Homo sapiens: one gene and its partners. The protein of the gene in region 1 interacts with the protein of each later gene in a pairwise test. Each region holds a gene or a part of one and is shown in the gene's direction. Other genes may lie near its edges. The genes, in order: DACH1, FGF12, RNF14 and PPIG.

What was found.
Region 2: the proteins of DACH1 (region 1) and FGF12 interact in binary tests that used the Homo sapiens proteins (3 or more experiments, as listed by UniProt).
Region 3: the proteins of DACH1 (region 1) and RNF14 interact in binary tests that used the Homo sapiens proteins (3 or more experiments, as listed by UniProt).
Region 4: the proteins of DACH1 (region 1) and PPIG interact in binary tests that used the Homo sapiens proteins (3 or more experiments, as listed by UniProt).

Annotation. Positions count from the first base shown.
Region 1 is NC_000013.11:71,857,192-71,864,220, reverse strand, and holds part of DACH1 (dachshund homolog 1), read left to right. Parts: intron 1-7,029. UniProt on the Homo sapiens protein: Transcription factor that is involved in regulation of organogenesis. Seems to be a regulator of SIX1, SIX6 and probably SIX5.
Region 2 is NC_000003.12:192,717,529-192,724,557, reverse strand, and holds part of FGF12 (fibroblast growth factor 12), read left to right. Parts: intron 1-7,029. UniProt on the Homo sapiens protein: Involved in nervous system development and function. Involved in the positive regulation of voltage-gated sodium channel activity. Promotes neuronal excitability by elevating the voltage dependence of neuronal sodium channel SCN8A fast inactivation.
Region 3 is NC_000005.10:141,972,079-141,979,107, forward strand, and holds part of RNF14 (E3 ubiquitin-protein ligase RNF14), read left to right. Parts: intron 1-1,504; 5' UTR 1,505-1,510; coding exon 1,511-1,664; intron 1,665-2,725; coding exon 2,726-2,877; intron 2,878-6,224; coding exon 6,225-6,752; intron 6,753-7,029. UniProt on the Homo sapiens protein: E3 ubiquitin-protein ligase that plays a key role in the RNF14-RNF25 translation quality control pathway, a pathway that takes place when a ribosome has stalled during translation, and which promotes ubiquitination and degradation of translation factors on stalled ribosomes.
Region 4 is NC_000002.12:169,601,327-169,608,355, forward strand, and holds part of PPIG (peptidyl-prolyl cis-trans isomerase G), read left to right. Parts: intron 1-2,315; 5' UTR 2,316-2,368; intron 2,369-2,699; 5' UTR 2,700-2,715; coding exon 2,716-2,776; intron 2,777-2,860; coding exon 2,861-2,935; intron 2,936-4,712; coding exon 4,713-4,820; intron 4,821-5,777; coding exon 5,778-5,822; intron 5,823-7,029. UniProt on the Homo sapiens protein: PPIase that catalyzes the cis-trans isomerization of proline imidic peptide bonds in oligopeptides and may therefore assist protein folding. May be implicated in the folding, transport, and assembly of proteins.

The DNA of each region.
Region 1 (7,029 bases):
AATGTTGTGTGTGTGTGTGTGTGTGTGTGTGTGTGTGTGTATGTGCGCGCGCGCGCTCAAAAGTATGGACAGGTGGCAGTAAAGATGGGGGGTGGTGGGGGTCGCGGAAGCAAGATCACTAAACGTCATTTACTCAGATAATTGGAGTTCTTGGTCGTGCAGAATGTAAAATATTTGCCCAAAATCTATATTAAAACTATTTGAATCAGGACAGGAAAATTGTTCTGGAGTTATGAAGAAAGCTAGGTGAAATTTGAAGCTAGTTCAGATACGATTGTTATAAAATTGTCTGCCTATCCAGTAAATTGGTGAATTGCTACTTTTTTTTTCTCTTTAATAATCAAACATCTACTCTCCTCGGTATCCTCTTTATGTGTTTCTTACAGCACACTAGATACTAGATAATTAAAGGCCATTTCACATACACACACGTAAACACAAAAAATTACTGGAGAAAACTTTCTTCAATGACTGCATTATAATAAATGTTATAATCAATGTTAAACTCGATTTATTCCCTGAATTTTTGCCTAGATTTGAAGTCCTCACCATGTGGTTGGAGAATATTCTTTAACTTTTAACTAAATATTTTTCAAGTTTTTTCCCCCTGAGGTTAACAACAGATCTGGAGTTTAAACTTGCAGAGCCAAGATAAGTTAAATCCAGTGGAACTGTTTATCTCTTCACAAATATCTCATCACTACTGTAATTATGTTTCAGTCACCTGGCCTTAATAATTTGCAATTACATGTGTTGCTCTAAAACCCTATTTCAAGTTATTTTTAAGTTAAAGGCGGGAAGTTTGTTGATTTAGTATTGTATTTGATCATATATCAACTAAAAAAGCTTACTCAAACTTAAATACATGCAATATTGTAGTCATTAACTTGAGAAGGTGTTTAGTTGCAAATACCTACCTTGGTTTTCCTAACTCTGCCACTGATTGAAGAAATTGAGAACTTGTAATGGAACTCCCTCTCACCAAATATACTGTTTACCCTATATTATTATTTTTAATGATTATTATAAGCATTATTGTCTTATTTCTTACCTTTGAAAGCTTTGAAATGTTTTGCATCTTGCATTTATAAAATTATGATTACTTTTTTCATTCAAGTCAAGTTTATATCTTTGCTGTGAAGAACCTTTTTTATTCACCTAGATGTATTGATTTATTTCACTTTGGTTTCTTTCTCCTCTAGCTACTTAACAGGCTAAGGGAGTAATTTATGTAGAGTATAAGAGAAGCTGAGCAAGAAGGGAAACTGTATAAAATTACTATCTATACACCCATATATGTGTGTATATAATTTATACATGCACATATCATAATTTATATACAATGAGAAACATCAAATCTTAGCACTCTCAGCTTTTTACAGAAACTATGTCTATCTCTTAATAGCATGGAATAATAATACCAGGGATTTTGAGGAACCGAAATGATGTTACAGAAAAGTAAGGTTCATAAACTTGCTCAAAGTGGCTCAGTAAGTTAGTAGCAAACCTTCGAGTGGTTTTAATTTGCTTAGGGCTATTGCATTAGTATGTTATCTATGAAAACTAGAATAAATGTTGAAGCCATCTGTCATTACCACAAGGAGGTGAAAAAGAGACTATCACCTGCTAGACAGTAAAGCTAAAAAATAAAGGTCTCAAAACATGAAAGAAATGTAAAGCTAAAAAATAAAGGTCTCAAAACATGAAAGAAATGTAAGGACATATATTTAAAAGTTGTCAAAGGACAAAGTCTGTCCTTGATCAGCTTCCTCCAATTATTATTTCAAAACTAAACATTAGTTGCATGAACTTGGCTGTTGCAACAGAGGTCAGTTAATTAACTGCTTACCATTAAATAACAACAAAAAAAGAAAAGTAATTATGTACATGGTCAAATCTCTGTTTGTATAAGTCAGTTCCCTTTTTGTAGATTTGGGTTAGGATTCAATTTTCCACGAATTCAGGTTTTAAAAAAGTGACCCTGTTTTATTATGTTATCTAAAATATTCATTTCTTTCATTGTTGTAAGAAGATAATTTTTTCTCAGGATCTTTCAAACAAGATTGTGATGTAGGTTCTAAGTAACCCTAGATTTGAGGGGTTTTTAACTTAAGTAGATTCCAGTTAGTCTTATATATTTTTTAGGCACATACATATATTCACAAACAGAATTCTTTTGTCTTAAAATACCATCCATGGACAAAATATTGAAAGTGTTTTATGTTTCAGTAGTAATATATGAATGAAATTGTAGTGTAAGAAGTACAAAACATTTTCCAACTCTTGACTCTATTTTTTTTTTTTTTTTTTTTTGGTTAGGAGTTTTAATAAAGATGGCAAACCGAACCAGTCTATATTTATTTAACATTTGCCCTGTTGCCTGGTTTTCAATGACACAGACTTATGCATTGATATAGAAAGTTTAACATAAATATAGATTCACTTCTAACAGATAATTACAATACTTGGCACAGAGAAATTAAAGAATTGCTTCAAATGAAGAGAGACTCTGCTTTTGAAGTTTTCGTATTACAGTAGATTAATGCTTCCAATAACGCCTAATGTCTCATTTTATATCATTTCAAAAAGAATAGGGCATAATTAGAAGACTAAAGCTTAAATATGAAAGTTTGCTTGGTTCCACAATTTATTTCTGTATGTTTTTAAAGTGTTAGCAAATTACACTTTAATAACTAGTGTATGAATAAAATATAAGAATATTCTAACCTAGAATTTACTTTGTTCAGTCAAATTATACTGCAGGATATAAGTTGTTGAGTTATTTGGATAATCTCTTCCAAACCTGTTGTTTTTCTAAGAGTTAGTCTCTCACAATATCGTGGTTATTTTTGTCAAAAGTGAACATGGTTATGATGATACTTTACTTTCTGAACTCCACATTTAGTTAATGCTCTGATGTAAGAAATTTGATTTGTACATATGATATTTTATTTTGTGAAGCTTCAAATATTATATAAAATAAACTACACGACAGGCTTTTTTCCTCTAGAAAAATTCTGGTATTCACATTTGACACATAGTTTTAAAATCTTCATTTTTTTAGTCCAAATCTGCTTTTTTTTTGGATTATTCTATTAAATCTCACTCCAGTTTCATGTCAACTACTGGGACAAATATTAACCACCCTCTTTTTGCCTCACTGCATCCCCCAACTCCCTGAGATGTGACACCCTATATTGACTAAAGTCTTGGCAGGATTTGAGCATAAATCACTCTTGTCTTTGGCGATTTACTACGTGTGATTCACCAGCATATGAAAACATGATATGCTTTATTGTTTCTCATTTGATGTTTTGTTTTTAGAGTATAAGTAGCATTAGTAAATTAGCTTAATGTGCAACCAAGTAGTTGTTATTTTAAGAACAATTTGTGCTTTAACTATCAATTAGTATTATTTTATCTTTCCAAGTTATTTTACTAAATTGCTTCATACAATTGCTTTTGTCAGTCAAGTAAAATAGTCATTTCGATTGCATTGTATGAGCAACATAGAAAACAACTACTGCAAAATATAATGGGAAATTAAACTCTCACAGGTTGTAAACTGTCTCCCTTTGAATCCTTGTCTGAAGAAATTAATTTGAACTATGCCTTCTAAATAGGTACAGGTGAGTCATCTAGATTTCATTAAACATTTTTATTTTAAGGTTTTTGTTACTTGGTTCTTTTAAAAAGTTAAACTTTGTTTGAATTTATCTTTCAAGTATTTCCTTTTCAGCTTGTTCACCAAAAAAAAAAAAAAAGTCACATTAAGTTATATATCTTTAGAATAACAGGAAATGTAAAAATGGATATTATTGGCTTGGGTATTTAAAAATGTAATTAAGATAAAGTTTTATCATTTTATGTTTGAATTGTTATAAAAATAGAATGACCTTAGCATATGTCAGCATGTGCCATTTTCTTACTGAGGTAATGCTTTGTGATTGGCCAGTTTAAGAGATGTATATCTGCATGCATGTGTGTGTGTGTGTGTGTACATACGTATGTCTAAATACTACATATTATATGTAGTATATTAATATATTTATATAGTATATGTAGTTTGAATATTCTAGCTAAGACTACACTTATATTTTCAGGCTTTGGGACTGCATTAAGGAGACCCTTCTCTATTATGTTTGTTATGTTCAATAATTAAATTTTTAAAGAAGAAAACTATGAATTAAGAGCCCACCTAATGGAGCTCAGATAAGTGTAACAGCAAAGGCTCTGATCTGCACAGATATGTACATCTCAGGCACAGCAGAGGCTCTGTGCAAACCTACATTTTGCTCAAATTTCTTGTTTCCTTCTTCTCAATCTGCCAAAAATATTTCTAGTAAAAAGTAATTTTTGCTACTGTGGCTGTCTTGTAACTAACTTTTATTTGCTGATATTCGCTTTTTAGCAAATGTCACATACAGGAATGACTTCATTAGGATAGTATAGTTAGTTTACCAAATTATTGCTTTGGAAAACAAGAATACCAAGGATAAGATATTTATATTTGGTCCACTAATTAGTTATTATTAGATTACTGGTGGATTACTTTATTTGTTACACCTATTTATTTTAAGGAGGTTTCTGAGAATCTGTTAAGAGTGTGTCCATTGTTGCTAGTTTTAGGCAGCTAATGATTAGCTTTATATATAAATGTACAAATGACAATGAAAAGAATTTTCAATCCACTATAAATTAGTTATTAGACAATCAATAAAAAGGTCATTGTTTTTCAAATTAATGATACAATTAAAATTAATTTAATGAATAGCAGATAAATGTCCAATTAAAAAATATATGTCACATCACATATAATGACCCAAATCACCACTTGATCCAAAGTCAAGGACCTTGAACCAAATGCATTTAAAATGTATTGGTTTATTCGGACATAGATTTCCTTTATAAGAGAAAAGCATTCGAATTCACCCATTTAAAAAAAATCATCTTTCATTCTTTCTAAATTGGACATTAAATTTGCCAATGACTGCATTGTGTTAAAGGTGTGGTCCTTTTGCTTTCTGATCCAAATTGGCTTGGAATTGATCCAGGATTTCAAGCTGGGATTCTTCTGCACATTTAAATGTATGTGACTTGATTGGAAGTTGTCAAAGACAACTCATTAAACTGGAAATCTCACTATGTCATTGTTTAATTGGTCTTTTTTTGTTGTTGTTATAAGTATATTGAAGTGTTGTAAACTACAAGCACAGCAACACACTGAATAGCCAGTTACTTTTTAAAAAAGTTTTAGAGAGTAGTGATTGATACTGAGAGAGAGACACACAGAGAGAGAGATACAGAGAGAGAGAGAGAGAGAGAGAGGCAGAGAGAGGCAGAGAGAGAGAGTGCTTAACTGAAGTATCTATAATAATGTACCGTACAGGTTGAATACAATACCTGGAATACATTACATTTTTCTAGCAGGAAGTAAAAGTGAAATAAGCCAGGCACAGAAAGACAAATACTGCATGATATCACTTACATGTGGAATCTAAAAAAGTTGAACTCATAGATGCAGAGAGTAGAATGGTGGTTACCAGGGACTGGAGAGCTGTTGGTCTAAGGTTACAAAATTTCAGTTAGATAGGAAGAAAATGTTGTACAACGTGGTGATTATATTTTCTATGATTTGAAAAATAGAAATAAATATACTTTGATTTGACTATAAGTAGATCTTTAAGAATCCTGAAGTGGATTTTGAAGATAGCCTATATTTTTGACAAAAAAAATATGGATATACTTTTAAAGCATGATTTTCATGAAGCAAATACTGCAATAGGCCACATAGTACATTGGTTGATGTTGATTGGTAACATTGAATAATTGAGAAATGTTTTTGTTTCCTTAGCGTATATGAATGGAGTGGTAAACATGAAGTATTAAAAAGTCACAGTGTTAAATGATCTTTGAATTTGTATGGTATCAAGTGTTTGTAAATAATTAGATTGCCTTTCCAGTTACAACAGGAAAAAAATAACCTTATTTTTCTTCAAGGGCAAACAAAATATATCTTAAGAAAGAAAGTGTACTACTTGAAAGGGAGATATTTTATGGAAACATACAGAAGCATTTGCAGTAAATATTTATCAATTCCATTTAAGGGATACTGGTCATTTCTTCAGTAAAGGCAATGAAAATAAATCTCTAGAATATGTTAACTAAGAAATAGTGTATTACATTCACTTATCAGGCAGATGGAGTATTTTGTTAAAATCTTAAACTGTATCCTGATATTTTATTAGTAGCAACAGTAAATGGGCTGTTTTATTCATAGTCTTATATTTTAAAGACATATTGTTTATGTATGAACAAAGTAAATCACTTAAGGTGTAACAAATCTTTGAACCCATCATAGTTCTGCTAAAATATACTGATGCATTCAACAGTATTACTTTCTATTTTATGTTTCAAATTTAGGATTTTTATTTAATTTGATTATTCAAAATGATATTATCTTCTTGAGTTAGGCACTTACACTTAAATAGTGCCTTTTGATTTTAAAAGAATAACCTGGAACACTTTTATTTTTCATAATACCTGTCACACATTTTATATGAGGATGAATGTTCTTGTGTGTGCAACAAGTGTAAAATTTTTATCAGTAGTTTAGAGAACTCTGTGGTGGATATTTTTTATATGTATTAGCATTAGCTCATTTGTACTCTATGCTTTAAATAATTGTCGTACATTTGGTAGAAAAGCCTTTACATACATGTATATGTGTTGTGTAGGAATACATTCACACACACACACGCAAACATAACATATACACCTGTAGGATGTAGGGCCACAGGACAAATAACTTAGGAAAATACAATTGGCTTTAATTTTACCTTTTTGTAGCACATAAAAACATGAAACAATACATCAATAAACAGGTCCTATTTTACTGAAATACAACAGAAAAAAAGAATTAATTTTAGAGTTAAAGAAGTAGTTTATACTTAAATATTTTAGATATAATTATGCAAGGCTATATGGTTATTAGGACAGTGATTAAAAACAGCTTAATTTTTCTAAACC
Region 2 (7,029 bases), on another chromosome or scaffold:
CGGAATTTGTGCCTTGCGTATCTTAAGGGCTTGAGATTCTTAAATGAGTTAAAATGTTTAGTATTTAGAGGAGTGGTTCACAAAGTTTGCTGCACACTAGAATCACCTGACATACTTTCTGAACATACTCATCCTGAGATGGCACCGCATACCAATGAAATTAGAATATTGGGGTGGAAGAAAAAAGCATATATGTTTCCTTTAGAGGTCCCTATGTACAGCAGTGTTTGGAAACCACTGATTTAGACTCTTGATAGTCAAAATGTGGTTTGCAGACAAATTTTTTAGAACTGCAGAATCTCCATATTTACTCCAGGTCTATTGAGTCAGAATTAGAATTTTGACAAAGTACCTAGGCAATTTGTATGCACATTAATGTTTGAGAAGCATGATTTGGAGTGAGGAAACAGGCTTTTTCCTTCCTTTCCTCCTTCCTTCCTTCCTTCTTTCCTTCCTTCCTTTCTTCCTTCCTTCCTTTCTTCCTTCCTTCTTTCCCTCTTCCCTCCCTTTCCCTTCCTCCCTTTCTCCCTCCCTTTTCCCTTCCTCCCTTTCTTCCTTCCCCCTCCCTCCCTTCCTCTCCTCCCCTCCCCTCCTTCCTCTCCTCCCCTCCCCTCCTTTCCTCTTCCCTCCTTTCTCCCCTATTCTCCCCTCCCCTTTCCTCTCCTCTCCTCTCCTCTCCTCTCTCTCTCTCTCTCACACACACACACACACTCTCACCTCCCACTGACCCCCACCTATATCACATTTTTCTTTGTCTAGGTAGATTTCCAGCCTCAAGCTGGCATACTACCTATAGAAACACCTGTAGAGCTTTTCAAATGTAAAGATGCTTAGGCCATACCCCTAATAATGTGAGTTTAATTAGTTCTGGGGTGGGATCTGGGCATAAGTAGTTTTAAATGGCTCCCAAGTGATGCTAATGGATGGCCAGAGTTAACCACTGATGTAGGGCATTACTGCTGGTGGTCCACAGACCAGCAGCATTTGCATCACCTGGGAGCTTGTTAGAAATGCAGAATCTCAGTCCCTACACCACATCTACCAAATCAAATCTGGATTTCAACAAAATCTAATGGTCATTTCTATGCACTTTAACATTTAAGAAGCACTGGTGTAGATCTCAGGGAACTGATTGCACCTGAGAATGAATGACACCACTCCAGGCACCTCAGTAGAGAAGATTTGATATTATCTGTCTAATCATTATGAAGGCTCATGGATATGTGATCATGTTCTAGGTCTTCTGGTTGTTTTTGGATACAACAAAAATGAAATGAAAAAGAAACTGCGTGATCTAACTCATAGTTAGATCAGAAAACAAACTTACTTTTAAATACCCTTGCTGCTCATCCTCCAATCACTTACTTTCAACCCCCAATTACCCTAAATATTTATTCTCTACATTCATTTTAAGCTCCTGACAAAGTCTGCTGTTAACTCATGGTAATGTGATGATATTTGACTACTTAAATCAAGGCACTTCTAAACAGAGTGAATATAGTTTTATCCTTTTCTATTGTCATACCTCTCTGTTCAACCCTTTTGAGATTCCTATGACCTAAGTACTCGTTTGTCCCTCACATACTGCGTTTCTTACAGTCAACATTGTAATTTTTGTGCTTTTTATTTAAACAAATATTTATTGAGCATCTGATATGTACCCAATGTGCTTATTTCTGAGAATGTGAAAGAAAACTAAGATGCAATCTCTGAACTTGACAATTTCACTCTTCTATCTTCACTAATATATTAACCTTCTCGTGGGCAAAATCTGAGCCTTTAACATTCCAGCAACCACCTAAGTGTCTATCTCAGGTAGAATATTTAAGTTTGCATAGTAGGGATTCGAATTATATGCGTTGGATAGCCTTAATTAGTTTTTTTAGGCCAACTTCATGGATCCAGAAGATTGTAAGTTGGGAGAAGTGTGGGAAACTTAGCTACCAGGAGGGCTCCCAGAAACATCAGTGTGATTCCAGAACATGGAAGGGAGTAATTTGACCCACTCTCTCAAGAGAGACCTGCACATGTATTTCCAAGGAAGATTCAATTCTTTGTTCTAGATTTCATACCAGCCATCAGAGTTCAGTCAGGGCCATGAACCAACACACTTAAGGTATAGAACAGTCATTTCTCTGAAGCCAGGATGATTTACTCTGCAGCAGAGAAAGGAAATGTCTATGCAATCATTAGTATATCAGAACTGGAAAGCGATTTTAAGAAGAGCCATTTTGTGGTTAAACAATAACAACAACAATAATAAAAGACTGAGCCAGTATAGTGAGATAAGTAAAACATAATTCAGTAAAATCATGATGTATAGTCACTGAGTGTAGGAAATACAGTTTCTTACTCCACCTGTCATGGTGTAAATTTGGACAAATCTTTTCCTCTTTGGGTCTCAAGATTCTTAAATATCAAAGGGGGTCCAGTTCATTTAATTTAAAATACCGAGTTGCCACATTGTTCCAGGCACATTATTAAATGTGGGGGACAGAGGTATAAATAGTTTATTGACTTGCCCTCTAAAAGCTTACAATGTAGGGATATATGAACAGGATCAAGAGCTGTTGATTTCTAGCATTTTATGTGTCTTCTCCATTCATCTTTCAGAGTTCTAGTAGGTTATCCGGGAGGCTAGAATATAAAGTCTTACAGTGATTAATGAGCTCCAAAGAGGCACTTAACATTCCACAGCAATAATTCCTGCCTTTTGTTTCCCCTTTGGTTTATTTAAACAAAATTATTGTGTGGGAGAACATTTGAACTCAAGCTATGTATCTACTATAAAAGCTATTCCACCTGACTAGCTACCTGCCTAACCTGTTTCTTGCTTTAGGTTATTATGAGGCTTGTTACCCTCAGTAATAGGTCTGGGGGAGGCCAACCTACTTGCCATTCCCTTATCCTTTTTCTTTTGTGCTTTTAAGTTTTTGAAGTACCAACCTTATTAGGTTTGGTGTTTTGTGCTACTGATTGACCAATAATGGTTTATTGCATCTCTTAATATTGGGTTTCCTGATTTGTCACATATTTACACCCATAAATAACGTTCGTGAAACACTTTGTACTTTTTCAAAAGGCTTTTAATATATACAATCTCCCTTAAAACCCTGTGATTTGGCATTTTAACTTTATTTTATAGATAACAAAACAAAGGATCATAAAGACTAAATGACTTAGGCAACTCATCTTACCTCTGTTTCTCTGCAAAATAAAAATTCTTATACCCATCCCAAGTGCTGTACCATAATATCATGATTATGAAATAAAACTCATGCTAATAAAGTATTTAGAACTCTTTAGAATTATAATCTGACTTTCATCATTTTTAGCTGTATCTCTCTTTACACTAGACTGTGAGATCCTGGATGGTAGAAATTGGTCCTCTGCCATTTTTGTAGTTTTAGCAGCAAGTATACTGCACGACACTCAATAAATCACCCTTCATTAACTCCCACAAAAACTTCACTTTACCAAAAGGGATTTCTTGTGTGCTTATTCTACAGTTTTAATAGTAACGTCTCCAACACCTGAATTTGTCTCTACATCTTATGGGTTTGGGGATGGAGATATATTGAGTCAAGTATTACACCTTGGATGGGTTTAAAACATAAACTGTGTAAATTCTGGCCACTAACAATGGTCTTAATCGGGGTACATCTCAGAACCACCAGACATCCTGTAATACCTGCAAGTCAGATATTTAAGAAACACTCAGGTGATGATGTATGTCCTCAATTATGAATCCATCGATAAGCTCCAAGATGGTTACTAGGAAACTATAACACATACATGTGTTCTTTATCAGGAGCACTATAGGACTTCTACTGCCTGGGCCTTGTCTTTTATTACCACCCTCTTTAGTGTTAAGAGAGTGTGTGTAGAAGAGAGATTTCATTTCTGTACTACAGACTTGGGATTGAAAATAGATATGCAAAATAGATGGCAAGAGTTTGAGGCTAAGATGACATGCCATTTTCCCCAGCATCATCTTCCTCATCTCCTTATTAGCATCCTTGCATGCAGAGCACGGTAGGATTTTTTAAGGATCTATGTCAATAGTTCTAATTTTAGCTTTCTCATCTCTCCAGTTACTTTTTGAAATAGTCTCTGTCTCCTTGTCTTTGGGAATGTGAGACTCCCACCCAGGGAGGCCGTGGTATTTAACTGCTGCGATGCTGCTGATGGCACCTAGGCAGAAGTCCCAAAGGACACCTGTTGCCCCTTCACAGATCTTTTCTTTTTTCTTTAGCGCATACTCTGCCTGGCTTTTTACCTGAAACAAGCCCCATTACTAATGATTGAAAAAGCACACATAATTGAAAGTGGGACTTTAAACTACGTGATAGAAGTAAAGGCATGCTGCCATTCTGTGGTTAGGTTTTTGTTTCTTTCTTGTTTGTGGATTGGCCATTAGCCTGAGAAGCAACCCAAAGGGACTAGACTGCAGAAAAAGAATCCAGAAACTTTCAGAGGCTGTTCAGAAGATAACTAAATGCACCAAAGAGTCCTTTACCAAGCAGGCAGGAAGAGGCAGCAATGCCAATCTCTCCCTACCTCATTCACTTCTACAATTATCACCCACGTGAAACAGGTTTTCCTCGAATCCTCCAGTACTGATAGCACTCTAACAGATTGAACAAACCTCAACACAGGTAATTTGGGAAATTTCTTTTCAGATACTTGGGAACTGAAAAATCTAGATATGCTTCCTGCTTCAAAATGTGTTGGGTTGTTTTTCTTGTTTTTCTTTTTTTTTTTTTTTTTTGCCCTTAGTCTCTTTCACATATTATAATAAATTGGGGTTAGATACTCTACAAACAAGACTATTATATAAGATTTATTATATGATCATTCTAATTGTTTAAATCTGGAAAATTTAAAATTAGACTATTTACACATTTTATCTAAAGGCTTTTCCTTCATTTCAAAACATGTTCAACATTTCTAGCACTATTTAAAATTGAATTTGGTTTACTTCTTTCTTCTGGGATTTAAAAGAGAAATATTTGCTATGTATCAAGATAAAGGTTTTCATGTAAATCACTCTTTATTTTCAAGCCTACAAATAACTTAACATGAGATGAAATGAGTACTTTTTTACTATGGGCTTTGATTTGCATCAGCATAAAAAACAAACGATTATGCAAATATAGCAAGACCCTCAATAACAATAACGTAAACATGAAGGAGACAACTAAAGCAATAGCACAGACCAATCAGTGCCAGTCTTTTAAAATGAGACCATTGGTTGATTGATTCAATAAGCAGTATTTCCTTAGAACCTGCTGTTTGTTAGCTGTTCTAAGGCTGAGCTTTTCTAACTGTAGTATGCACACTGGTGGAATTATGACATTGTATACTCTGGTGATACACTGAGGCATAAAATACACATGGTGCATGTTCCAATGAAATATAACTAATATTCTAATGTATTAATCTAACAGACTACTTAGATTATTCTAATCTAATCTATTAAATGCTAGAAGATCTGGGATCAGGTTCTCGTTCTTCTATTCCATGGATGAACCTCAGTGTACTAAACCTCTCTCTCTTTTTTTTTTTTAACTCGGTTTGCCCATTATTGATTTTTATTTTCTTGTTACAAAGAAATTGTTATTTTAAGCTTGTTTGTATTCTTTCTTGATCCTCTTTAGGCTTAACTTCTACAGAAAATAAACAGGGTGATCATAATTACCACATCAAATTTTAAGGACTCAGTGTGGGTTTGAGCTAGCTTTTTAATGCTGTGAATTGTGCAACTGAAGTTGTTGGATTTATAACTTTATTGAGGAATTAATTTGATTCTGAGTGAGAAAGCACTAAGAGGAAAAAAGTGCTACTTGGCTAAAGTTTGTATATGGCATGATTGTGACCACATAGGTAACAGGTTCATGTCTAAATTGATGGATGGCTGCAGTGGCCTTGTGGAAAAGACGCTGTCTTGGGGATCCGGAGACCTGGATTTGAATCCTAATTCCCGCCCCATCTTCAGTTTGAGCTCGTGGCTTTCTTTCTATGGCCTTGTTCTTCATCTGCAAAACAAGAGTGGATTAGAGGCAAGATTCTTTTCACTTCTGGGATTGAAAGAACCAGCATTTGTGAAGTGTTTATATAGGAACTACAGTGGATACATTCTGTTTAAAGATTTATGATCAGCTGCTTGTTCTCTCCTATCTCTTTTGGCGAACTTGATGGCATTTTTGCTTAGCAGATTGTACATTATGTTTTTATAACGTCTTTTCTTCACCCTCATATGTGTCCTCTTTACAATTAAGATGAGTTTATTTATACAACAGTCATATGTGAAGTTGATTTGGTGGATATGGTTTTCTTCTCTCTGCCAGCCCTAACCAGCACCTTCTTGCTAAAAAAAAAAAAAAAAAAAAAAAAGAAAGACTAACAGAATAATGACAAACAGTCCAAGGGCTGAGTGTTTTACTGACATTATTGATAGGAAGTCTGATTTTCTTTAGTTCTCAATCATTAGTAATATATTACTAAAAAACAATTGCACTCAATCCTTCATTGCCTTCAAACAATTTAAAAACCAATAACTATGTCTTCCAATGTTTGATTGGCTACTGATCATTTTAGATAGAAGAAGCATTTTCTACCACCAGATGAAAGCTATCCAAGGTCTAAGGGTTTCATGGTTAATAAACTGAATTTCTTGATTATGCGAAGAATAAAAGAAAGGGAAATATCTAACAGCCATTAACATGTTTATGAACATGGGTTATAATCAGAAGTGTTTATGACATAATGGTAATTATAAAAATAGTACATGTGGATATATGCACTAATTATAATGTAAAATTTGGTCATTGGCAAATAGTAGATTGTATTATGCAAAAAGTGACAATATTTGGATAATGACGATTGAATTATAAGTGGAGTTTTATCCTTTTTCACATATTTTATTACAGTTTTTTTCCCATAAAGCAGATTTTCTTTCTATGCTTTATGGGGAAAAAAACTGTAATAGGTGTTGGGTTCAGTTATAAACTTAAACAGATCCAGCTA
Region 3 (7,029 bases), on another chromosome or scaffold:
ATTTCAAAAATTTAATATTATTTTGCTGCTTGCTCAGTTATCTAATTTTCTTCCATAATATCTATGCCTGTAACATTCTCAAGCACTGTTTTCTCACCTGGGAGCAATTTTGCCTCCAACCCCCATCCTGCCCCAGGACCTGGCGCTATTTGGAGATATTTTTTTTTTTGAGACAGGGTCCCACTTTGTCACTCAGGCTGGAGTGCAGTGGTGCTATCATGGCTCACTGCAGCCTCGACCTCCCAGGCTCAAGTGATCCTCCCATGTCAGCTCCCCAAGTAGCTGGGACCACAGGCAAGCACCACCACACCTGGCTAGATATTTTCAGTTGTCACAGCTCTTGTGGGTGGAAGCGGGCCACTATTGGGTATCTAGTGGGTAAAAGCCAGGGGATGCTGTTAAGATTCTATAATGCACAACACAGCTCTCCAACAACAATTATTTACTTCAAAATGTCAATAGAGCTGAAGCTAAGAAAACTTGCCCTAAAGATTCCTGTGGATTTAAAAAATTTACTTTTTTGTTTTTTTGAGACAGAGTCTGACTCTGTCGCCCAGGCTGGAGTGCAATGGTGCAATCTCAGCTCACTGCAACCTCTGCCTCCCACGTTCAAGCAGTTCTCCTGCCTCAACCTCCCGAGTAGCTGGGATTACAGGGGTGAGCCACCACACCCAGCTAATTTTTGTATTTTTAGTAGAGATGGGGTTTCACCACGTTGGCCAGGCTGGTCTCGAACTCCTGACTGCAGGTGATTTGCCCGCCTCGGCCTACCAAAGTGTTGGGATTACAGGCACGAGCCACCGCGCCTGGCAAATTAACTTAAGAAAGGAGTGTAATATACTTTGACCACTTTTGCGAACCAGGCACATTGCTAGGTTCAGTGGACAAGTCAAAGTAAATTTGTGATTTGTCCTTTTCAAAGAAAATTTTCAAATTGTGCTTTTTTTCCTCTAATTCAGTCATAAAATATCTAACTGATAAGATCAGGAATTAGAAGTACCACAACCATCCCTTTTGAAAAAGACTGTTAATATTGCAAAACTAATGGAATGCCAGATATGGCTGTCATTTTTGGTTTAGGAGAAAAGTGATAATATCGATTAATTCTTTGCAGTTGTTTTTTGTGCCATTAAGCTTTTTCCACCTCTGTGCATTTTCTTTTCTTTTTTTTTTTTTTGAAACGGAGTTTCACTCTTGTCGCCCAGGCTGGAGTGCAGTGGCGTGATGTTGGCTCACTGCAGTCTCCACCTCCCGGTTCAAGCGATTCTCCTGTCTCAGCCTCCCAAGTAGCTGGGATTACAGGCACCTGCCACCACGCCTGGCTAATTTTTGTATTTTTAGCAGAGATGGGGTTTCACCATGTTGGCCAGGCTAGTCTTGAACTCCTGACCTCAGGTGATCCGCCCGCCTCGGCCTCCCAAAGTGTTGGGATTACAGGTGTGAGCCACCACACCCGGCCAGCCTCTGTGCATTTTCTGTTCTTAACTGATTTTAATGTTTTCAGGTCCTTATGTCGTCAGAAGATCGAGAAGCTCAGGAGGATGAATTGCTGGCCCTGGCAAGTATTTACGATGGAGATGAATTTAGAAAAGCAGAGTCTGTCCAAGGTGGAGAAACCAGGATCTATTTGGATTTGCCACAGAATTTCAAGATATTTGTGAGCGGTTAGTTAATAATTTCTTAAACAGATTTTTCTATTATTCTTTATTTCTTAGTGTACCTTAAACTATTTGTCATTTTGTGTTTTAGGCATTAGTGATAGGTGGTAGTATTACAGAGGTAATGCATGTTTCTGTTTTAAATGAAAATTGCAATGAGGGGCAAGCAGTTTTCAATTTGATTCTACCTTTTTGATCACTGAAGAGGGATATTATCCTGCATATTTCATACATCCTGGTCTGCTAACTAGCAGTTTATCAGCCATGAGTCATTGGCTGTTACATAGCAGTAATCAAAGAGAAAATGAATGTATGTGAAAACGCTTAGAAATTTTCAAGTACAGTGGTGGTGGTTAATACTATTTGGTTTCCAGAATCATTTCAACTACTATAAACATATGACACATGCTATTACTCTGTGACCTTTTGCTTCAGAAAAAACAAAACTGCTGCTTTTGATACAGACATTTACAGAAGACTTTGATGCACACTTTCTCAAAATGTTTCTACTATAAAGGGATTGAGTAAGGAAAGTAAGTGTGGTAATTTAAATGAAACTTTGATTGTGAGAGTGTTGTGTGCTATATTATATCCTCAAACCTGAGATCATTGTGTTGGCACAAATTTTCCCAACTGATTCATGGGTAGTTGGGACATGCTGGTCTAAGTGGGACATGCTGGTCTAAGTAGGTCATGCTGTTCAATGGAAATGAACATCCTTTCTCTAGATTGTGTCTTCAATCATCCACTGTAAACCAAACCACAACAAAACAAACATTGTGTGTTCCTTGGTCATTAGTGTTAGGAATTGTACTCAGAAGTGTATACAAGAATAAGTTGTAGTATTTTCATTATACATTTCATGGTGCTGTAGATTTTTCAAGGGCTTACAAGATTTTTTTTTAAGGTGGTGGCTACGAAGTTAAAATTAAGAAATAGAAAGTGCTTTGGGGGAGGGTTTTTATTCCCTCAACTAAAGCATTAAGTCTTTCTTGAGCGCTGCTCAACAGTAGTGGACACTCAAGTGTTGACCAACTGATCCTTTCTAATCTTTGTTTTTGGTTCAGGCAATTCAAATGAGTGTCTCCAGAATAGTGGCTTTGAATACACCATTTGCTTTCTGCCTCCACTTGTGCTGAACTTTGAACTGCCACCAGATTATCCATCCTCTTCCCCACCTTCATTCACACTTAGTGGCAAATGGCTGTCACCAACTCAGGTTAGACTTGAAACTTAATTTTTCCTATCCATTTTTAGAAACTTAAAAATCACCTTTAATTGAAGACTATCTTAAAGATCTTGAATTCAGTGCATGAAAAACAAATGGCTTTGGTTTTGTAATTTTTTTCCCTTGCCTTGGTGAATCCTGATGTTAAGAAATTGAAAATGTTTGGTGTTTTAAAAAGGAATGGCAGTAATTAAAACAATCATGAATTGTAGTAGGAGTAATTTTTAATCAAGTATATTATTTCTTTTCTTGTCTTGCTATTTTCCTGTTTAATCTGTATTATAATGGAGACTAAGAGGTCTTCCTCATTTTCCTTAGACATTGATACTACTTTTCTCTTAGTTTCTTATCCATTCCTTAAATGAAAGATTCCATTGTAATTAGGACTAAAAATTGAGCTAATGTAGTTATAATAAGCAAATTTTCTGAGTGAATACAATAACTGATTTTCTTTGTAAAAATCTGTATTAATAACAAATAACAGTCAACTGGTATCACGTAGACATAAATGCATACAAGTAGAAATGTGTATAGTTCCTGTAGATATCTCAGTAAGGCTTGAGGCCTTATGTTAAGCACCTCATTTCCTCTGGGTTATATATACTTTTCTAGTAACAACCTCAACTCTTGATTGAGACATAAATATGGCTTGAAGCTAAATATAAATAATATAAAGCATTCTGGGAGAGATAATGAATCAGCAGCTGCTTTTCTAGAAGTCATAATGAAGATCAATAGACTAATGTGTATTAAGACAAAAGCTCAGCCTGTGCAACATGGCGAAACCCAATTTCTACAAAAAATACAAAAATTAGCCAAGTGTGGTGGTGCGTCCCTGTAATCCCAGATACTTGGGAGGCTGAGGTGGGAGGATCACTTGAGCCTGGGTGGCAGAGATTGCAGTGAGCCAAGACTGAGCCACTGCACTCCAGCCTGGGTGACAGACAGAGACCCTGTCTCAAAAAAAAAAAAAAAAGAAAAAGACAAAAGATGTCAGAGTTGCTGACCTCAAGGAATAGCTCATTAGTTTTTCTCTTTGGATCATACAGTTTTCATTTCCCCATCCACCAATCTAATCTTTTAAGTGAGAGTACTTTCACAAACTAGAGCTTATGGTTTAAAAGCAAAATTAAACCTTAAAAAGGATAACACAGGTAGAATAAAAAGGAGTATTACTTTACATTCTAATGTCTGTGCCAGAGGCAACAGATGCAAGACAGTTGATTTGTCCAGGAATATCAAGACTGTTTGGCATTTAGGCCACTGATAGTTGGCTTAATTATTTAGATCTTCATAGTCCTATTTCACCAGAGAGCTTTTCATACTTTACATCCACGCATGTGCGTGCATGCACGTGCATGCACACACACGCACAAAACAGGGACAGATTAACTGGATGCGTGGTTGTGGTTTCAGATTCCAGCCAACCAGCATCTACTTAATGCTGGATTTGGGGGCGGAGGTGTGTGCTGGGGAAGAGAGTTGTTTTATGTGTTACAGCTAAAATTACAGTAGAATTCTTAATCAAATAAATGTTTATGCATATAATTAACATTTTAATTGGTCTCTTATATTCCTTCTTGGTTCAGTTCTTGTTTGTTGCTGTACCCTGATTCCTTGGCATTATGACTCTCACCTGTTAATGGTGAAATTGACACATAGAGCTGTCATTCCCTGAATTGGGGCGGGTAGACAGAGGGAAGTGGTTTTAGTTTTCTAAAACCTTATTCCTTATTCCTCCCCCAATATACTTACACAGTCTCTTTCCCGTCCCCCTTCCATTTACATGCATTCCAGCTGCCTTTCTCTCTCTTTTTTTTTTTTTTTTTTTTTTTTTTTTTTGAGATGGAGTCTTGCTCTGTCACCCAGGCTGGAGCACAGGGGCACAATCTCAGCTCACTACAACCTCTGCCTAGTGGGTTCAAGTGGTTGTCCTGCCTCAGCCTCCCAAGTAGCTGGGAATACAGGCGCCCGCCACCACACCTGGCTAATTTTTTGTATTTTTTAGTAGAGACAGGGTTTCACCATGTTGGCCAGGCTGATCACCAACCCCTGACCTCAGGTGATCCACCCGCCTTGGCCTCCCAGAGTTCTGGGATTACAGGCATGAGCCACCACGCCCAGCCCCAGCTGCCTCTCTTGAGAAGGGACTGGGGTAGAAAAGAGGTTGGAGAATGGCTTCTTCATAGGACTTGGTAGCTCACACAGCACTCATAGCTTCCCTTTTAGTATTTATCACATTTTACAGATGTTAGCAGATTTCTCAAAAGCATGGTTGATTTATAAGGATATTTATGCAAATGTGAAAAATCATTAGTTGTTCAATCTTAACTCATCAATAAGTATTTAAGGTAGTACCTATGCAGGGTTTAGTCAGTGGCACTACACAGAGTGTAAGAAACAGAAAATCTGGTCCCTTTTCATTTGTCATTTAAATTTACAAAATTTGTTTGCCATCTGGAAGGCATATTTTTGGATGTTTACCTAAAAAAGAAAAGCTGCTTATAATTCCTGTGCTCTAGTTAAAAATATTTTATATTTCTAATGGAAAATTCTCCAACATTTGCCTTTCAAATTGAACAGACCACTTTTAAAGAGGAAAATTCCAAATAATTTAATTTTGGTTGCTTAGCTTAGGAAGTGTAAGCTTTCTCTATGGCTGCCAAACCTTGCTGAGGGCTTGTGATTAGGACCAGGGTCAATATCAGGCAGCTTCCCTCCATTAACCAGGATCTGATATAAGCCCAGATTGCTTACTTAAAAGCAGCTTGTAAATCTGAACAAGGACTCTGAGGTTGAATTCTGTTAGTGATTGTTTCAGATGAGTTGACTTTTTGATAAAACTGAAAGAATTAATTTTAAAACTTGGATAGTATTTTTAAACTATTCTTTTTCTAACCATTATTCTAGGATACGAACAGGGCTAGGACTCCTAATGGAAGAAAAATAGTTTATTTTTAGAACTAGATCTCTTTGTCCTACATGAGGTATATGGCAGTACTAAAAGATTAAAGAACAGAAAAAAGTCTTCCATTTCAGTGGCTAAAATGTACAGCTATTTCTCTACCTTACGGAGTCTTGCTATTTCTCTTCTTCTCGTGGTACTTCTTGCTTCTGACTTTATGTTCTACTCTGGCTCATGTTGCCGAATAGTTTAAGAAGTGCTCCAGTAAGAATGTTTGTACTGTTTTGTATGTAGCACAGTGTATCACAGCAGTAAAAAATAGTGTTAGAATAAGGGCCTAACTTGCAAGTGGAAAAGATTTCTAGGGAAACCAGGAGTTGGCAGCAGCATCATCTTTCCAAACTCACCAACATCTTCATGTGTTTTCTCCTAGCTATCTGCTCTATGCAAGCACTTAGACAACCTATGGGAAGAACACCGTGGCAGCGTGGTCCTGTTTGCCTGGATGCAATTTCTTAAGGAAGAGACCCTAGCATACTTGAATATTGTCTCTCCTTTTGAGCTCAAGATTGGTTCTCAGAAAAAAGTGCAGAGAAGGACAGCTCAAGCTTCTCCCAACACAGAGCTAGATTTTGGAGGAGCTGCTGGATCTGATGTAGACCAAGAGGAAATTGTGGATGAGAGAGCAGTGCAGGATGTGGAATCACTGTCAAATCTGATCCAGGAAATCTTGGACTTTGATCAAGCTCAGCAGATAAAATGCTTTAATAGTAAATTGTTCCTGTGCAGTATCTGTTTCTGTGAGAAGCTGGGTAGTGAATGCATGTACTTCTTGGAGTGCAGGCATGTGTACTGCAAAGCCTGTCTGAAGGACTACTTTGAAATCCAGATCAGAGATGGCCAGGTTCAATGCCTCAACTGCCCAGAACCAAAGTGCCCTTCGGTGGCCACTCCTGGTCAGGTAACTGTTTACCCTGCTGATGGTTGCCTCCTAATTCTCTTCCATAAATGGAGATATCATCTCAGGAACTTCCTTGATAGGGCTCATGGGGCAGTCCGAGGCCTTGGAGCCAGCCCACAAGTTGTTTTGCTGTATCCATTAAAAATGCTATGGTCTTAGTCTACTGCTTAAGCAAATGGAATGCTTCCTTTGGCCTTGCAGTGGGCAAGGATGAGTGTTAAAGTAGTTATTAAGTAATTGTGATAATTTACTTTGTATATCTGCTAGTAGGATCCCA
Region 4 (7,029 bases), on another chromosome or scaffold:
ATATGCCAAGCACTGTTTGAGCAGTAAGAATAAGACTGAAAATTCAGGTTTATCACATCATGGAACTTATATTCTAGTGAGAGAAGATGGATATAAAAATTGAATATCAATTAGCAATAAATGCTTGGAAGAAAAATAAAGCAGAATAAGAGGATGTAAAGTGTTAGGAGGATGAGAGCTCCTTTCTTGAATACAGTAGACTAGGAATGGGCCTCTATAAGAAGGTGATACTTGAGCAACAAAGGGATGAACCATGTGAAGATGGTTTGAGAGCATTCCAGGTGGAGAGAACAGCAAATGTAAAGGACCTGATGAAAGAGTAGGCTGTTGGGTGGCAGGGGGAACAAGCAGGATACCAATGTAGCTGAAATAAAGTTGAGGAAAATATTAGAAGATGTTAGGAAATGAAAGTTGAGGAAAATGCCTAGAGGTGAACAGGAGCTAAAATATTTAGAGCCGTATAATTGAAATTACAGTAGCCACAAGCCACATGTGCTTTTTGAGCACTTGAAATGTGGCTAGTCTACATTGAGATATGCTTCAAGGATAAAATATACACTGGATTTCCAAAGACTTGTACAAAAAAAAAAAACTCAGTAACATTTTTGTTTAGTATATTTTGAAGTGGTAATAGTTTGGTTGTACAAGTTGAACATCACTAATCTGAAAATCTGAGGTCCAAAATGTAAACTTTCTGAGCATCACAATTGAAAATTTCACACATAAGTACTTAATACAAACTTTGTTTCATGCACAAAATTATTTTTTAAGTTGTATAAAATTACACATACAATTCAGGCTGTATGCATAAGGTATGTTTGAAATATAAATGAATTTTGTGTTTAAACTGTGTCCCATCCCCAGGATATCTCGTGTATGATAATATTCCAAAATTCAAAAAAAAAATCTGAAACACTTCTGGTCCCAAGCATTTCCTATAAAGGATATTCAATCTGTACATACTGAGTTAAATAGAATATATTAAAATTAGCCTGGTTTTTGTTTGATTGTTTGAGTCTCGCTCTGTCCCCCAGGCTGGAGTGCAGTGGTGCAGTCTTGGCTCACTGCAACCTCTACCTCCCGGGCTCAAGCAATTCTCCTGCCTCAGCCTCCTGAGTAGCTGGGATTACAGGCACCCGCCACCACAGCCGGCTAATTTTTGCATTTTTAATAGAGATAGGGTTTCACTATGTTGGTCAGGCTGGTCTCGAACTCCTGACCCTGATCCGCCCGCCTCAGCCCCCCAAAGTGCTGGGATTACAGGCGTGAGCCACCGCACCCGGCCCAAAATTAGCCTGTTTTTGTTTGTCAAAATGTGGCTACTGAAAAATTTTATACCTGGGTGGCTCATGTTTTTATTGAGCAGTGCTGGTCTAGAGCCTTAAAATCCATGCTAAAACTTTTCAGATGAATAGTAAGACAGTTTTAGGCAGGGGAAGGATATGATAAGGTTTGTGTTTTAAAAGAATCATTCCACTCTGGCTATTTTGTGCAGAAGAGGCAGTACAGAATTAAGAGTAAAATAAGAGAAACCAGTTAGGAGGCTATTGGAATAGCCTAGATAAGAAATGATAATGGTAAAGGTAATGAGAACTTTTGGGATAGTTTTTGAAGCTAGAGCCAAATTACCTTCCTAATGGTTTGGATAATGAGGTATGAGGGAAAGTGGAACCGAAGATGACCCCCAGGTTTTCAGCCTCAGCAGCTGGCTTGGACAATGATAATGTTTACTGAGTATTCAAGGGAATGGAGGTAGAAGAATAAAGAGTTTTGTCTTAGATATATTAATTATTTTTAATAAAGTAAATTTTTATTGAAATATAACATAGCGTACATAGCATATGAAACTGTCATTTTTAGAGTCCATCATTTTGGATACTATTTACACTTAGTGCCTTTGTTTCTTCTACGGGTAAGTATCATCTTCCACCAAGTATTACGATTCAGCATTTTAAGTCCTTAAAATAAAATGCCTTATCAAAATAATGTCTGTTAAATAATAGCTTTCTGTTATGGAAATAAAGCTGTTACACAGAGTATCTCTTTGGTATTTTTTGTGTCTATACCAGCATATCAGTAAAGGCTGTTGCTCAGAATCAGCAAGTACCCTCATATGTAAAATTGAATGTGCTTTTACTCAAAATGTAAATCTACCACATATACTATTTAACAATAGTTAAATAGTATATTAACTATATACTATTTAACAATAGTTAAATAGTATATTAACTATATACTATTCTTTTTCTTCTTACATGATTTTTGCTTCTTAAAAATCTCACATTTTAATCAGAACTCTCATTTTTGTTTTCTAGGAGCACAGGGATCAGTTGTCCTTGTTTTTTTTTGGTCTTTTCTTCATTTGAAGGTAATCTGCTTATTGAGTTCACTAATCATACAGAGTAAATACAATTTTCTGTTTGAGCTATTAATCTGTATTCCGGTTGATAAATAGAAAGTTGATTACATAATAATGGTTAAGGCTTAACTTTCAAGTCTTTTCTAATTGCTTCACAAAATGCAATCTAATCTCTAAAAAGAAAGCACTAATAATCCATGTGATTTACCTCATAGAAATAAATATCAAAATAAATTCAAACTATATTTCTAATATTGTTTCACAGAATTTTTTTTCCAGAAATTTGTGAAAGATCTTTGCTATTTTAGTCTGCTTGTCTGAAACTGTATTTTACTCACAGATTAAGTATTGGAGCCATGGGAATAAAGGTTCAACGTCCTCGATGTTTTTTTGACATTGCCATTAACAATCAACCTGGTAAGAATATTAGTTGACATTTATAAATGGGTGTTTAATATTTTAAATTAGTAAAGAAGTTTAACCAACTACCTTCTTTTTCAGCTGGAAGAGTTGTCTTTGAATTATTTTCTGATGTGTGCCCCAAAACATGCGAGAACTTTCGTTGTCTTTGTACAGGTTTGTTCACATTTTCAACTGCCCTAATAGTAGTCTCAGTTGACTATGGCTTGCTTGCTTGCTTGGTTTTTTTTTTTTTTTTTTTTTTTTTTTTGAGACAGGATCTTGCAACGTTGTCCAACTGGACTAGAACTCCTGGGCTCATCAATCCTTACACATAAGCGTCCTCAGCTGGGATACAGGTGTGAGCTACCACACCTGGCATAGCTTGCTTTAATTTTTTATTTACTCTATTTTAGATTTCTCCATGCATATTACTTTTCTCTTAACATGAAGATTACACAGCAGTGACTAGGGCGTGAAAGTAATTCTTAGAAATATTATGGCTGGGCAGCCAGGCGCAGTGGCTCATGTCTGTAATCCCAGCACTCTGGGAGGCCGAGGGGGGTGGCTCACGAGGTCAGGAGTTCCAGACGAGCCTGGCCAAGATGGTGAAACCCCATCTCTACTAAAAATACAAAAATTAGCCAAATGTGGTGGCGCACGCCTGTAGTCCCAGCTATTTGGGAGGCTGAGGAAGGAGAATCACTTGAACCCGAGAGGCAGAGGTTGCGGTGAGCCGAGATCGTGCCATTGCACTCCAGCCTGAGCTAGAAGAGCGAGACTCCATCTAAAAAAAAAAAAAGAAAGAAATATTATGGCTGGGCACGGTGTGGCTGGGCATGGTGGCTCACACCTGTAATCCCAGCACTTTGGGGGGCCGAGGTGGGTGGATCACTTGAGGTCAGTAGTTCAAGACAATCCTGTCCAACATGGTGAAACCCCATCTCTACTAAAAATGCAAATAATCGGCCAGGCGTGGTGGCTCACGCCTGTAACCCCAGCACTTTGGAAGGCCAAGGCAGGCAGATCACCTGATGTCAGGAGCTTGAGACCAGCCTGGCAAACATAGTGAAACCTCATCTCTACTGAAAAAATAAAAATTAGCCAGGCGTGGTAGTGGGTGCCTGTAATCCCAGCTACTCGGGAGGCTCAGACAGGAGAATCACTTGAACCCTAGATGGAGGTTGCAGTGAGCCAAGATCGCACCATTGCTCTCCAGCCTGGGCAACAAGAGTGAAACTCTGTCTCAAAAAAATAAATAACAAAAAATCAGCTGGGTATGGTGGTGTGTGCCTGTAGTCCCAGCTACTCTGGAGGATGAGGCGGGAGATTCGCTTGAGCCCAGGAGGCGGAGGTGGCAGTGAGCCAAGATCACTCCACTGCACTCCAGCCTGGGCGACAAGAGTGAGATCCTGTCTCAATTAAAAAAATAGAGGCCAAGTGTGGTGGCCCATGCCTGTAATCCCAGCAGTTTGGGAGGCCGAGGTGGGTGGATCACTTGAGGTCAGGAATTTTGAGACCAGCCTGGCCAACATGGTGAAATTCAGTCTCTACGAAAAAAAAAATTAGCCGGGTGTGGTGACAGGTGCCTGTAATCCCAGCCACTCAGGAGGCTGAGGCAGGAGAATCACTTGAACCCAGGAGGCGCAGGTTGCAGTGAGCCAAGATCGTGCCACCGCACTGTAGCCTGGGTGACAGAGCTAGACTCTGTCTCAAAAAAAAACCTAAAACCAAACATTAGTTGTAAAGGTATATTATTTGAGAGTGATTTCTACATTCTCCAGAAATAACGTGGGTGATTTTTTAAATGAATTTTTAAAAAAAAATTCCTGAAAGGAATGAAAATATGATTTTAAGTCTGCAGGGTTCAAGAGGGGCATATTTTACATTTATTTTGCTTTCATACTACTTTGATTTCCTTTCTATTAAATGTCCTATTTTTTTATCTCTATAGGTGAAAAGGGGACCGGGAAATCAACTCAGAAACCATTACATTATAAGAGTTGTCTCTTTCACAGAGTTGTCAAGGATTTTATGGTTCAAGGTGGTGACTTCAGTGAAGGTGAGACTTGGAAAAATCATGTATTATTTTCTGTTAAATATCACAGATCTCAAAGTTAGACAAGTCCCTAGAAGTTTTAGTCCAATATTCTTGTCACTCTCACTCCATTTAATCTTTGGTCAATTAGAAGTACTCATAGAAATATGTAAAAGAAGGAAGCTCATAGGCTGGGTGCGGTGGCTCACGCCTGTAATCCCAGCACTTTGGGAGGCCGAGGTGGGCGGATCACGAGGTCAGTAGTTCGAGACCAGCCTGGCCAACATGGTGAAACCCTGCCTCTACTAAAAATAGAAAAATTTGCTGGGCATGATGGCACGTGGCTGTAGTCCCAGCTACTTGAGAGGCTGAGGCAGGAGAATGGCTTGAACCCGAAAGGTGGAAGTTGCGGTGAGCTGAGATTGTGCCACTGCACTCCGGCCTGAATGACAGAGCAAGACTCTGTCTCAAAAAAAAAAAAAAAAAGAAGGAAGCTCATAGAAAATAATTTTGCCTTTGACACATGAATTTCAGAAATAGGCTTCTGGATACAAAACAACACTGCATTCATCTCAGTAATCTGTCAAGTGTTTCTGTTTGATTTTGTCACAAGTGGTAATCCTTACTACAATAAAAATTTTTACTTTTTTATTGTAAAAATATCAAAACTATAGTTTTAAAAAACTTTGAAAAAATGTTAACCTGTTGCAAGACCTGCATAATCATAATTAGAATCTGAAAGTTCTTTTTTAAAATATATTTTAATAGTCTTCGTCACATTCTTGCTATCATAGCATAGGGGAAAGAAAGTAATTTGGGACCTTGTCGTTATTGACATTAATATCTTTTATGATTTGCTGCAATCTTCGAATATTGTTAATTCAAAATTATTCAAAAATCTACTTTACAAGAAGTATTTTGTTTAGGTATCACCTTTGAGGAGCTTACTGAGAGTTATAAGAGTATGTTTTTCATTTTTAGGAAATGGACGAGGAGGGGAATCTATCTATGGAGGATTTTTTGAAGGTAAAAATGTTTACATTTATATTATGTTTTAAATATTTTGTCTTTTATTCTATTTTATTCTCTATGGAATCAATAACATTATTCATTAAAGGGTATACTAATGTCTAGCTGCCTTCAACTAATCTGAAGGTTAATTTTCTGGTAAAAAAAATTGCTTTTTATACAGATGGGTATTTTTTCTTCTTAGGACATTTTTACAACATGATTTGAAAGGGTTTCAATGATCTGTACTTAATTCTTAGAATTTTAATGATAGAATAGGAACTTCCGTAGGTCAATCTTAACTTTTATTAAAGGAGATTCAGCAATATTTCTTACAACATCCAAATTTTAGGTCATTTTTTCTATGAACATTTTTAAAAAATCTTTGATATTCTAAAATTTGACTATAATATTTTCCAAAAATTTAAGTTTTCTTGCTGGAATTTTTTTGTTGATGTGAAGACCATTTGGAAAATGGTCTATAAGCATATTTAATGTGGAAATAATTTAATATTTTTCATCCTTCACTTTTGACATTTAGTGAAATGTTGTTTAAAATTCTACATGATTTGTTCTTAATATTCTAACCCAAGATTGGAAAACAAATTCCTCCTTTTGCGGTAAGTGATGCTATGGCAGAGGTTAAGTTAATGAGTCCAGACTAAATAATACTCTGTGTGCTCAGAAATGAAACAGATGAAATGTAAAAGAATCTAATCTGGACTGTCTCACTCTTTTTTTTAAGAGATGGGATCTCACTGTGTTGCCCGGGCTGGAATGCAGTGGCTTTTCATGGGTGTGATCATAGTGCACTTTAGGTTCAAGCTCCTGAGCTCCAGTGATCCTCCTGCTTCAACCTGCTGAGTAGCTAGGACTACAGCCACACTACTGTGCTCAGCTGTTTCTTGCTTTTTAAAGATAGTTTCATTTTTTTATTTAAATAAAGTGGTGTTATCTTTTCCAAAAATTGTGAAGGACAAATATAAATGGAAAGGAAGGGGATTGAGATAATATTTGGGTTTTATAAGCAAATAATAGAAAATTAATAATATTTGAATCTTAAAAAGATGAGAGGGGAGGCTGGGCACGGTGGCTCATGCCTGTAATCCCAGCACTTTGGGAGGCCGAGGCGGGCGGATCACGATGTCAGGAAATTGAGACCATCCTGGCTAACACGGTGAAATGCCGTCTCTACTAAAAATACAAAAATTAGCTGGGCGTGGTG